2 linked regions of the Homo sapiens genome follow. The protein of the gene in region 2 interacts with the protein of the main gene of each other region in a pairwise test. Each region holds a gene or a part of one and is shown on either strand. Other genes may lie near its edges. The genes, in order: EGLN3 and IK.

Evidence for each region.
Region 1: the proteins of IK (region 2) and EGLN3 interact in binary tests that used the Homo sapiens proteins (3 or more experiments, as listed by UniProt).

The regions. Positions count from the first base shown.
Region 1 is NC_000014.9:33,926,901-33,934,182, forward strand, and holds part of EGLN3 (prolyl hydroxylase EGLN3), read right to left. Parts: intron 4,316-7,282; coding exon 4,196-4,315; intron 2,313-4,195; coding exon 2,176-2,312; intron 134-2,175; coding exon 60-133; intron 1-59. UniProt on the Homo sapiens protein: Prolyl hydroxylase that mediates hydroxylation of proline residues in target proteins, such as PKM, TELO2, ATF4 and HIF1A. Target proteins are preferentially recognized via a LXXLAP motif.
Region 2 is NC_000005.10:140,657,806-140,663,239, reverse strand, and holds the end of IK (protein Red), read right to left. Parts: intron 4,504-5,434; coding exon 4,464-4,503; intron 4,302-4,463; coding exon 4,076-4,301; intron 3,926-4,075; coding exon 3,907-3,925; intron 3,485-3,906; coding exon 3,406-3,484; intron 3,126-3,405; coding exon 3,045-3,125; intron 2,483-3,044; coding exon 2,425-2,482; intron 1,621-2,424; coding exon 1,532-1,620; intron 1,342-1,531; coding exon 1,233-1,341; intron 1,062-1,232; coding exon 1,027-1,061; intron 939-1,026; coding exon 911-938; 3' UTR 760-910; downstream 1-759. UniProt on the Homo sapiens protein: Involved in pre-mRNA splicing as a component of the spliceosome. Auxiliary spliceosomal protein that regulates selection of alternative splice sites in a small set of target pre-mRNA species. Required for normal mitotic cell cycle progression.

The sequences.
Region 1 (7,282 bases), on a different chromosome or scaffold from region 2:
TTGAATAAAAGTCAAGGATTAACTTGATCAAAAGTCACAGAAAATTATCAAACACATACTAGTTAAATTCCTGAATTTCTTTTTGGCTTCTGCCCTTTCTTCAGCATCAAAGTACCAGACAGTCATAGCATATCTGTGAAAGATAAGCAGATATAAGGAAAGAGATTTAATGGTACTACTAGAAACACAAATGTCCTATAAATCTCACATTAAAAGTTTTAAAGTTTTCTCTATTATTAGAAGTCTACCCTGATTTATTTATTTATTTATTTATTTATTTATTTATTTATTTTTTGAGATGGAGTCTTGCTCTGTTGCCAGGCAGAGGCGTGATCTCGGCTCACTGCAACCTCCACTTCCCAGGTTCAAGCGATTCTCCTGCCTCAGCTTCCCAAGTAGCTGGGACTACAGGTGCACGCTACCACACCCAGCTAATTTTTAAATTTTTAGTAGAGATGGGGTTTCACCATGTTGGCCAGGATGGTCTCGATCTCTTGACCTGCCCACCTCGGCCTCCCAAAGTGCTGGGATTGCAGGTGTGAGCCACCATGCCCGGCCTGTCTACGCTGATTTTAATTTAAAATTAACTTCTCTGGTTTTAATTCTATTTCAATGTAATAAAATGCATAAGGAATTCCAGGTATGTGCCAGAAATTATCTTGGGCATTAGGAATTCAAATGACCCTGTGATCAGATCTTCCTCTGCGATCTCAGGCTCCAAGTAGGGGAGACAGGTGATTTTGCAATAATGCAACAGGTAAACATAGCCTCTACAGAAAGGACTAGAAGGGAGTCATTCTGCTAAAGACTGGGAGACCCAAGTTGGTGGCGAGAACATAGAGAAGAGATGACATTTGAGTGAAGCTTTGAAAAACGACTTATGTAAATCACAGTATGTTTAAAACTCTTGGCTTGCTTTCTTTAGTTTTGGACATTGAGGCAAAATTGCAATTGAATAATAATAATGCCCCAGAGCTTTCTACTGCATCCCCACTAATTTGCTTTATCCCATTCATTGGATAGACTGTAATGGGAGCCATTTCATGCTTGGTTTTTTTTTAAAGTTTCATTTTGTAATGATTGTTAGCTACTTCCGTAGCTAACAATTTCTATAGCACTTGAGTTTTTTTCAAGGGACTTCTCATCAACATTTGCTAATGTTTTCCCTGTAAGGCCAGTCATCATGAGATTGGGGAATAACCAAAGACTTCTGCCACAAACAACAGGGTTTAGTTACATACCCCATAAAACACAAAAGCTGACTTCAGTGGTAGAATTCGTTCCCTGCTCATCTAGAAGACATTCCGATTTGGCAGTTAATATATAACTGGGTTTGGGGCTAAGCTGTGTGACTTCCGGAGGAGGGCACATGTGATCTTAATTTAATTAGGCTTGTTAGGGTTTAATCATCATCCTACCAAAATTCTCTCCTCCTGCCCCTGAATGCTAGTCTCAGTATAAGCTGCACTCCATAGCCCTCCAATGCTGCCCGGCTTATTGCTTTAGACACAGACAAAGGTAAATGAGAGGCAGAATTGAGAATGAAGATTTTTTGTCAAGATTGTCTAGATTGGTCCTAAACAATACTAAGGTGTTCAGTTACTCTGAGAATCTTCATGTGCACATGATAAAGAAAAGATTAATAAAACATCCAACTGTTGGACCATGGATACAGCAAGCCCAAGCCAATTTCAAACCAAGGAAAAGACAAAAAGAGAAAGTCAAAACAAATTACTCTTTCTCTTCTCAAGGCTCTTTCTCTGCTTGCAATTAGCAGCTTGTAAACTCATCCAAAGTAACCAGACAGAATTCCTGATATGTGACAGCCAACATTCTCTAGGCATAGTTCAACATTAGGTTTTTTAAAAAAAGGGAAAGAGAGATAAGAGAAGGGAGGAAAGGAGAGAAGAGAAAAATACTTTTGAGAAATTGGAATCCAATATGCTCATCTAATAGAAAACAACTTGTTAATAGTACTTTCAAACTGAGGTTAGGTTTGATATGCTAAAGAACGCAAAGTTTCCCCTTTAATTTTTGTAGACTCCAAACAAGTTTGCTATCAGCTATGGGGTGTGGTCAATCCCCCACATGCACAGGACACACGTTTAAAGAGTTCTCTGGAACTAGGGTTTGTACACCAAGCTCCGGAAGAGGAATCATGGCTCCGGCTATTACCTGGTTGCGTAAGAGGGCTGCACTTCGTGTGGGTTCCTACGATCTGACCAGAAGAACAGGAGTCTGTCAAAAATGGGCTCCACATCTGCTATGAATGATTTCCCCTCTGGAAATATCCGCAGGATCCCACCATGTAGCTGAAAGACACAAAGAAGGGGGATTATTTCTTACCTCTCATGTAGTTTATCAACAACCATATTTCAGCTCCATTTAGAAACATGCCATCTGCTAACCACCACTCCAAATGCATGGTACCCCAGATTTTTACTTCAACCTCATAGTTTGTACCAATTTGAGATGGAGTTTCACTCTTGTTGCCCAGGCTGGAGTGCAATGGCACGATCTCGTTTCACTGCCACTTCCACCTCCCTGGTTCAAGTGATTCTCTTGCCTCAGCCTCCCGAGTAGCTGGGATTAGAGGCATGCACCACCATGCCCAGTTAATTTTGTATTTTTAGTAGAGACGGGGTTTCCCCATGTTGGTCAGGCTGGTCTCGAACTCCCGACCTCAGGTGATCCGCCCACTAGGGCCTCCTGAAGTGCTGGGATTATAGGCATGAGCCACCACGCCCAGCCACTTCGTACCAAATTTTATATCAAACTTAGCTAGAGATATCTCCTTATTCACCTTAAACCAAAAAAAGCACTCCCACCCCCCACAGTCATAAAGCCCATGGACGTAAAATAGAGTACTATTAGATTGAATCATACCGATTTGCCAATATTTGAGTGTTTTTGACTTAAAAAAAAATGCCCAGTGATCTCACATGGTTCCATCTAACCATTAACAACTTTCTAAGAAAATCATCACATGTAACTTCCCCTTCAATTAGAATTTACAGCTCTTCTGAACTCCCTTAGCTCCTATCTGACCTCATTAGTTGGAAGTTACATGCTCTTTTTACTGAACTCTCAGACCACCTAATCTGCACCTTTTATGACATACACCACTCTCTTCCTTGAATTATTTTTTTTACATGTCAACCTATTTCATCCTACTAGAATAACCATATTCAGAGTAAAGTTCAGGCCTCACACATCAATGTTTCTTCATAATACAACGCCTGACACTAGCAGGAACTCAAATATTTGTTAAATGATTCCAGACCTTGCAATTTATTATTACCAGTCTGATAACTTTATTCTCTTGTCTCTATCAGCACCTCTCAAGATTTTAAAGGAGACTTAATGGATGTATTCCAGTCATGTTACCAAACAGGGAGAAGAGATAGGCCTTTTCACTGATTCAATGGTTTCCCAAGTTTCGTTTTTCTGACTCTGGATAAATATTATTGCTTTATGACAGCCAGTATTTGCCTAATGAACAGGAAATTGAGATGCAGAAGGTTCAAAAGCCAAATAAGCTTGAAAAGTTATCTGACTTCCCAGACTCCTAAATCATTCTTAACTTTCGGAAAGCATACAGAGTCCAGATGAATGTCTGTAAGCATGGAACCAGGCTTCATATCTCCATCTATCTATAAGTTCTATAATACAAAAATAAGCCACAAAGCCTTTGGCATTCACAAACCATAGTAAGCCATGGCAAGCAGCCATCAATGAGACATACCACCCCGAGGGAGAGGACTGTGTGGGAAATCTCTCTTGGGGATGGTTTTATAGCCTACAGTTCTATTTTTGTGGAACTTTCTCAATGCTGCTGCTGGGAGGGAAAAGTGTATATCCTATTCTGCATTGAGTCAGAACAACTCTGAATTAAACTGAAAAAAATTAATCCTTAATCCTAATATCAAATTACCTTCCCTTCATCAACCACCCTTCCCAGAGGTAGGGTTAATAATCACCCTACCTACCCCACTCCAAATTAACTTCATTGTTTTCTTCTTAACAACTTTAGGACTAATTCCATTGTCGCAGGAGGTTATGAAATGGAAATAGAAATGTTTCATCAGTGGGAGATACGGCAACTATGAACTCAATATAAACTCTCCTCTAAGTTATCTGAATCATTTTCCTGTAGTTTCTAACCCCACACTCTACTCCCATTATTCAAAAGTACCTTGGCATCCCAATTCTTGTTCAGATAGTAGATGCAGGTGATGCAGCGACCATCACCGTTGGGGTTGTCCACGTGGCGAACATAACCTGTTCCATTTCCCGGATAGCAAGCCACCATTGCCTATGGAGAAATCCCAAGAAAGCTGGTTAACAAAGCTGAGACAGACAATCTTCTCCTCCCACTGGTGAGCAGATAAGTAACACAGTCTCCTTGGGTGTTACGTGACATTTACAGGTAGTTGCTGGCTTCTTAATTTCATGTATGGTACATAAATTTGGACTCTTCTGTGCACAATGGCCAGGTCATACTATGGCTCTGCCCAGTGGAAAGTAGTTCAACAATATTCCCACAGTTCTAGAACATTTTACACAGTCTTTCTTAAAGTAACCTATCTGCATGCCCTGTTTGCATAACCTGTTTGTATGCCCTGCCTTTCTTCAATACTCCTTTTTGGAAAAGCAGTTTCTAGTTTCCCATGCTACAAAATCAGAGTCACTAGGTGTGGAGTTTAGGGATTATGACTGTTTAGCAAGTGCTGCTGAATCACTCACACTGTTTCAGAACAATGGCTAAAGGTATTTGCATACACAAAGTGACAGAACTAATCACCAAAGGAGGAAAAGGTCAGGCTTACTCAATAAAATGCTCAGGATAGAAAGAATAGAGGAAGATCAATAGGAAGCCGCACCCTAACTTGTTAACACAGACAACACAGGGAGATTCCTTTCAGGAAAAAAGCCATGCATGTATCTTAATATGTGTCTTCTTCCTGATAATTATGTAATCAGGTGATAATCTGAAGTTCTCTTTGTCTAAGTGCTACCTGTATCAACCAGGTGGAAGAATAAAGTAGAAAACCGTACCAAAAATCCTACTGAAAATTACCATTAGAGTAAACAGACCTCTAATTGTTCCAAGGGAAAAATTATAACACAGAGTGGGGAGGGGGAAGAAAGCAAAGTATAGAAAGCCAGTTCTTTTCTTCACAGGATACCGCCATGTTTGAAAAATATTTTTTATAGGGATGCAGTAGGTGCAAGGAAAATATTAGAACCAGCAACACAAGATGAGGACAGGGATTTTTTTTCCTGTTCTACTCACTGATGTATTCTTAGCACCTAGGACAGTGCCTGACATACAGAAGGTGTCCATCTAAAATGTGATAAATAAATCAATGAACTAGCGAATGGCTCTTTCTCTAAAGAGTAAGTTCACATTTTACCTAGATCAATAGCTATTTCTGTCATTTTAAAAGACCTATCTTCAAACATACATGTAAAGATCCAGGCCATATATTTCCTGATAAATGGCAGCGTTGCTTCATTGGTAAAATGACCGTTTGAGTAGAGCCCCAAGCTAATGGGCTAGTGGTTCAATGAATCAGCTTCAACGTGGCTGCCGAGTCACTCTCAATAGTAGCATGAAAACACGGAACTAGGCAAAACACACCTTGCATGCCAGATCAATAATAAGGCTGAATAGTAACTGGACTTTACAACAATTTTAAAGCTTAAATCACCATCTCTCTCAAACTTCATATCCTCATGCAGCAAACAATCCCCATATCCTGCCTTTGAACATCAAAATGTCAATGTGATGTCATCCTTAGAGCTCAAGTTAGGCTGTTAGCTTGAACATCTTTCAGAAGGTGAAACTGTGAGGCGACGTCAGCAATGAAGATTTAACAAATGATGGTACCACTAAGCAAAGCATGGCTTGAGGAAGGGTGATTGGTAGCAAACAGAATTGATGGGCCTAGCAAGAGAAGAAGAGACAAATAAAGTCACCTATAATGACTAAAGAATTACCCACCCCTGGAAGCAGCTATTAGGATTATAAGAGCCACCACAGAGCCAATAATGAAAGTCGCTTAAGCCACAAACAATTACAGGCTGGATTCCCTATTATCTCAGGCTCCCCCCACTGAGTGTGTCTGAAAAGAAAAAGTATGACATCAATGCTATAATCTTATATGCTTAAACAGCTCTTCTCTAAGGAAAAGGTCAGTGGTCTGGATGCCTGCCATAGTTCACTCTGCAACTAACTGTGATCCCAGGCTGTCTCTTTCCTATAAAGAGGGGATTGGGTTACGCAGCTGTCAAAGGCCCAAGAAGATCTAAGACTTGATCTAAGCATCAACCCTTGAAAAAGCAACATAGTTCTTCAGGTCATTAAGGAGTGTTTCTCTGCCTCAGAACTCAGCTCAGATTAAAATATTGAAAAAAAAAAAAAAGATGGATACAAACTCACAAAAGTAAATCCTCTACCAAATGCCGCATCTATAAAACACACAGAGACAAAGCCAATTCCAGAGGACTTACTATTAGGACAAAACCCCTACATGTCAGCAAAGTATCCGACTGCTTAAGAGGGAGGCAAAGAGATAATTTTTCTGGCCAGAGTGAACATTCACCCTCTCTCCTGGTTCCAGAAACCACATGCATCAAGTTGGAAACAATGGAAGGAAATCATTTCGAGCATCAGTGGGCCAGTTGAGGCTACATTTGGCCAATTTTATCAGTGTGTTTTCTGGATGAGTGCCATAGGAGATGGGTCTTTGCTTGGGCACATTCCCAACTATTTGCTCGTCTTTGACAGGGTCTAAAACCATGAGGCTAAGGATGCACCGAGAAGCAAGCCTGACTTCAATAACTAGCCATTCACTTCTGTGCCAATTTGTGCACGGGGCAGTAACAAACTCCGGAAACAGATCAGTCCAACTGAGTTGCTATCTAAACCTCATCAAGCCGGGGAAGGGATTTAGTGTTTAACAGAAGAGAAGTCTTCAATGCTTTATTGTTAAAAGAACGGGCCAGAGTAATTTAATGATCATATAACAAACATGCCAAGCAATAAACTGACACATATCAAGAGGATGCCTACTTTAGTACAGGCTTTTTATTTTCTAAAACTTCCTGACTAGATTAATATTTGAAGTTTACGCAAGTTTAACACAGTAGTGTCATCTACAGCAGCACATACAGTATAGTCCTATAGTTCTATTCTTGGATATACTGATAAATCCACATGTCCCCTTACACATTTACCGCTCTGTCCACTGACATTATATAGTGTACCCACCCCACC
Region 2 (5,434 bases):
TCTGGTGAGGCCACAAATCTTGGGCTCAGGGTAGACAGTGGCAGCGTGGCATCCAGCCAGGAAGCAGTAGTGACACCTAATGATGAGCACCAGGCCAAAGTGCTGGTAATGAGCAGAAGGGAAGAAAAGGGAAGGGAATGGTGTGATTCAAAGGTCAACAGACCTATTCTGGGCCTTGGCAAATGTTTCAGGGTGATGAAGGGCACCAAACCCTTCTGGTCTAGGATAGGAATTCCTGTACCTGCAGGGCCACACTATATCAGCTCTAAACCCAAAGCACTTCCCTAAGGTTACACCTTTAGCCAAGGAGACAGTGATTTGTACTCAACATTAATAAAGCTCATAGTACATAAACTCATAAAAGGTTTTGGTTCCCACCCATAAGTGATTTTCATTAGATGCCTTCATCCAGAGCCCAGTCCTTCATAGCCTGGAGATCAGATTAGCAGCCCATCAGGCTGACAGCAATCCCCAGGAAATCTTTCCCCAGGGACTAGGCCTGAAGATGGGCCGGAATGAGTCTGACATTTGAGACCAATCATACTTACATTCCTCTATCCACCTCTTGCCCATCAGTGAGGATCATTATTCTCTTCTCTACTGGGCACACTGGCTAGAGAGCATCCTTACTGTCTAGGAATCTAGAACCACAGCTCAGGAAAGGACTGATGACTTTCTGCATGTGATTTTACACAACCAGTGGAATTAGTGTTCTTGGTGCTTCAAGGGCACTGGAGGGGACATGCTCAACAAAGAAAATAGCAAGTTAACCAATTTTAATGGAACCAAGTAATTACACAATAAAATTTTATATTCATCCACAAAAAAACATCTTGCAACCTTTGGAAATTGTAGAAAGAAAACAGTGGGGAGCATATCCTTGTGGAGCATCTCTGGTTGTAACTAGTGATTAGTATTTTGGTCTTTTGACTTCAACCCTGCAATGGAAGGAGAAATGGGTCAGTATAAGATCAATACACTAAGCAATTCCCACCAGTCCCACAGAGGAAGAATAATGCCGCTCACCCATCAGCTTCCATCTTCTTCCTCTTCTCAATGATCTGCAAAAACAACAGGATAGTCTATCACCAAGCTGCCCATCTAAGCTCACCTGAGGCCCAAGGCTGACCTCTCATTTCCATGGCTCTCCAGCCCCTTGCCTGTTCCTGAATCTGCAGGCTAATGTCTTCTCCCAGCTGAAACCCTCCCACCCAAGGGGCCATCCTACTTACTGCACTAATCTTCTTCCACTGGCGATCAAGCTCTGCTTTGTCATTGGTTTCCTTGAAGCGCCTGGTTTTCCGCCCTTCAGACATTTTGATACCATACTGGAATGCAGCCCTGAAAAAAGCAGTTGGGAAAGAATGCATCAGAGATTGCATAGCAGTGGCGAGGTTTTCCCAGAGTCCTGTGGGCAAAGAACTTAGTGGGGAACATCTCAGCCAGACCACACCCTCTAACCTTATATGCACTATTCCACCAAATCCCCACACCCCTCCTCACACCCTGCCCATATTCAGTACCGACTCACTTGGGCAAAGCTTCTTTGTTGTTCATATACTCGCTGTATTCTTCCTGGGTATCAAAGTCCCAACGGCCTAAGGGCCCCTTCTTGTTACCCTGTTGCAGGACAGAATCGGGGGATGGGGAAGGAAGAGATGTCAGTGGAAATGGAATTTCAGCCCTTGATTGAAGCCAGACTCTCCCATAATCCCAGGTTCCACAATTCATAAATCATACCCTGATAAGTAATAATAAATGCTTATTACATACTTACTATGTGACAGGCATTATTCTGTACACTAAATGCATATCTCACTTAATTCTCATAAAATCTATGAAGAGGGAACTATATTTCTCTCCATTTTCCTGATGAGGAAACTGAGGCATAAACAGTGAAAGAACTTGGCAAGTTCACAAAACTAATAAACAGTAGAGGCAGGATTAAACAAGGCTCCAAGATTAAACCATGCTATTTCAATACAGTGAACTCAGGGGAAGAACACAGACTTCTTCACTATTAGTGGCATTAGTGGTTTTTTTCTTTTTAATTTTGCTTAAGACTTAGAGGAAAACTTCAATCCTGGCTAGAATAAAATTTAGTTATTTTCCAAAGACTGCAATTTTTTCTGCCCTTTCTACTTATGCATTGATGCTTGCTTACTGCCTACCATGGGAATCAAAGCCTGGCACTTTGCTATAGGAAGTAAAAAATAGATTTTTGACCCTATGTCATTTGATCTTGTGCAAAGACTCTGAAATAGTTAAGCTGCTCATGACCCTCAATGCTGCTGTTTCTACTGCTGCAGCTAAAGGAGGGTGGGGCCCAGTAAATGAGATAGATTTTTTAGGAGTGGGGAAGGAGATACATGTAAAACAAATAATAACTGCCCAAAGGCGCCCACCATCCTTCTAACTACATACCTGGTCCATTTTGCTATAATCCACCTCCTCATCACTATCCACAGCCATGTCATCCATCCTAAGGAGAAGCAAGAGTTAAACAGATGTTGCATACCCTGACCCTATGCTTCATCTGGAAACCTACCCGACTAAGAGGTTATCTGCATAGGAATGACCACCCCCTAGACCTCCCACTTAGAGCCTAATAAAATAGTTCATCCAAGTAAGAAGTAGCCTTGGGCCAGGCGCAGTGGCTCACTCCTGTAATCCCCGCACTTTTGGAGGCTGAGGAGGGCAGATTACCTGAGGTCAGGAGTTCAAGACCAGCCTCACCAACATGGTGAAACCTCATCTCTACTAAAAATACAAAAACTAGCCAGGTGTGGTGATGCATGCCTATAATCCCAGCTACTTGGGAGGGTGAGGCAGGAGAATCGCTTGAACCCGGGAGATGGAGATTGCAGCGAGCAGAGATTATACCATTGCATTCCAGCCTGGGTGACAGAGTGAGACTCTGTCTCCAAAAAAAAAAAAAAAAAAAAAAGAAGTAGCCCTGGGACTTAGCGAATCAAATTTCCATTTCACCCCCAACTTGTTTCCCAATCATCCCAGCCTCCCTTCCTTAACCAGGTTTCACATACGTGGCTGGGTAGCACTCTGCATAACTGTTGGACATGCCAAAGAAATCTCCCAGCTGCTTTTTGTCTTCTGGCTTCTTCAGCATATGCTATGTTAAAGAAAACACTACACAGGATTCTACCTATTGCTGTAAAGCTTCAGCCAGGAGGGGGCCAAGGGCTAGAAGCCCCAACATGAAAATTCTGAGTGGGCTGTGAGCTGTTATGGGTGCTCTGGGAAGGAACAAGGGATGGTTTCATTCTGTCAAAATTCAGCGTAAAAGGGAAGGAGAGGGGCAGGGTAGGAGGGAGCAGGGAGGCAGGGGGGGTTGGAGTAAAGAGACCAGTTCTCTGGAACCCAGGAACGTATTAAAATAAAGGATATGATTCTGTGCCTTCCCAGCCAGCAGACCCAGCAAACTTTTCATTGATGGACTTGATCAACTCCTTGGTAGACCCAGGTCCTAGGAGAAAAGAGAACTCAGCCCAGACCTTGAACTGAGGCTCTCACAACCTCCTCCCCACAACACACTTAAAAAACATTTTTAAGGCATAGAACCCTTTTGTCTAACAAAGTTTTAAACAAACTCCAATTAATGAGTCACTCTGGTTGAGATGAGGGTAGGGTATCCAGAACATTCCATACTTGACCTCTACCTCACCTCCTCAGAACCCCAGGGCCACAGGAATTATATCTAAGAGCAAATATGCCCTGCCATGGCCCAGGAAGGTGGAGGGAACTCCACCTATTCAATAAAGCAAGACACAGTTCTTACAAGAACCCAGAACCAGGAGGTCCCCCAATCCCACCGTTGCCAGCTCTGAGCCCTACCAGGGGAAAGCAGGACTGCTAGAGCAACTGTGAGATGCTGTGTGTACAACTCACCTTTGTCAACGTCCATGGGCTGGAAAGAACACAAAATGTGAAGTTAGTGTTACCATGAGAGATTCCTACTCATCCCTCCCCCAAGTTTGAAACAATTCCTTACCCAACCTTGCTCACATTTCCAGAGAGGGGCAACTCCATCACCTGGTACTAAGGGCCCACATCTCACCTCATCATCTACTTTTGGCTTCTCAAAGTAGCTGTGTCTCTTCTTTTCCTCTTCTCTCTCTCGGTCCCGCTCTCGCTCTCGTTCCCGATCTCGTTCTCGCTCTCGCTCTCGGTCACGGTCTCTGTCTCTTTCCCGATCACGCTCCCGTTCCCGATATCTCTCCCGCTCCTTGTCCCGAGGTGTCTTGGTTGTGGAGGGTACGTAATCCCCAATGTCTTCAAAAATACTGGGAAAATGGAGATCACTAGCTGGCCAAATTCACACATACACCTTCACTCCCCCTGACCATTTCTCCAGATTCTCATGTCAGCACCTCCCCAAAATGCCAGACACAAGAAATGTACAGACCCCCTCCCTCTGATCAGATGCCAGGGGCTAGGATACATACTTCATGTCAGCCTCAGGAGGTTTCTTCTCTTCCAGCTTCCCTGAAATTTAAAGAGAGGAGTCAGGAACATACTCCTCAGTTAATTTCCACTGAACTTCACCATCCTCTCCAGCTCTTAATGCCCTTTTAAACATCTTCTGTTTAAAACGTGGGTCAAGGCTGGGTGCGGTGGCTCACGCCTGTAATCCCAGCACTTCGGGAGGCCAAGGCGGGCGGATCACTTGAGGTCAGGAGTTTGAGACCAGCCTGGCTAACATGGTGAAACCCCATCTCTACTAAAAGTACAAAAAAATTAGCCGGGTGTGATGGCAGGTGCCTGTAATCCCAGCTACTCAGGAGGCTGAGGCAAGAGAATTGCTTAAACCCAGGAGGCAGAGGTTGCAGTGAGCCGAGATGGCATCACTGCACTCCAGCCTGGGCGACAAAACGAGACTCGTCTCAAAATAAATAAATAAATAAAAATAATAAAATAAGGCCAGGAAGAGTGGCTCATGCCTGTAATCCCAGCACTTTGGGAGGCCGAGGTGGGCACATCATAAGGTCAGGAGTTCGAGGCCAGCCAGGCCAATACAGTGAAACCCCATCTCTACTGAAAATACAAAAATTAGCCAGGCGTGGTGATGCGTGCCTATAGTGCCTATAGTGCCTACTTGGGAGGCTGAGGCAGAAGAATCGCTTGACCCCGGGAGGCAGAGGTTGCAGTGAGCAGACATCGCACCACTGTACTCCAGCCTGGGTGACAGAGCGAGACTCCGTCTCAAAAAATAAATAAATAAAATAAAATAAAATGTCGGTCAAGTATTAGAGCCTTTTTAGAATCTGTCTAGGTTTTCTGGTTTTCACCAAAAAATCTCTTTTAAAAAAAATAAATAAATAGGACATAAGCTACCCACTCTCCATCCCTCATGCTTCAGACCTGACCACTGCTTCTTAGGTAGGTTAAGGAGACAGAATCTGGCTGTAACTGTCTC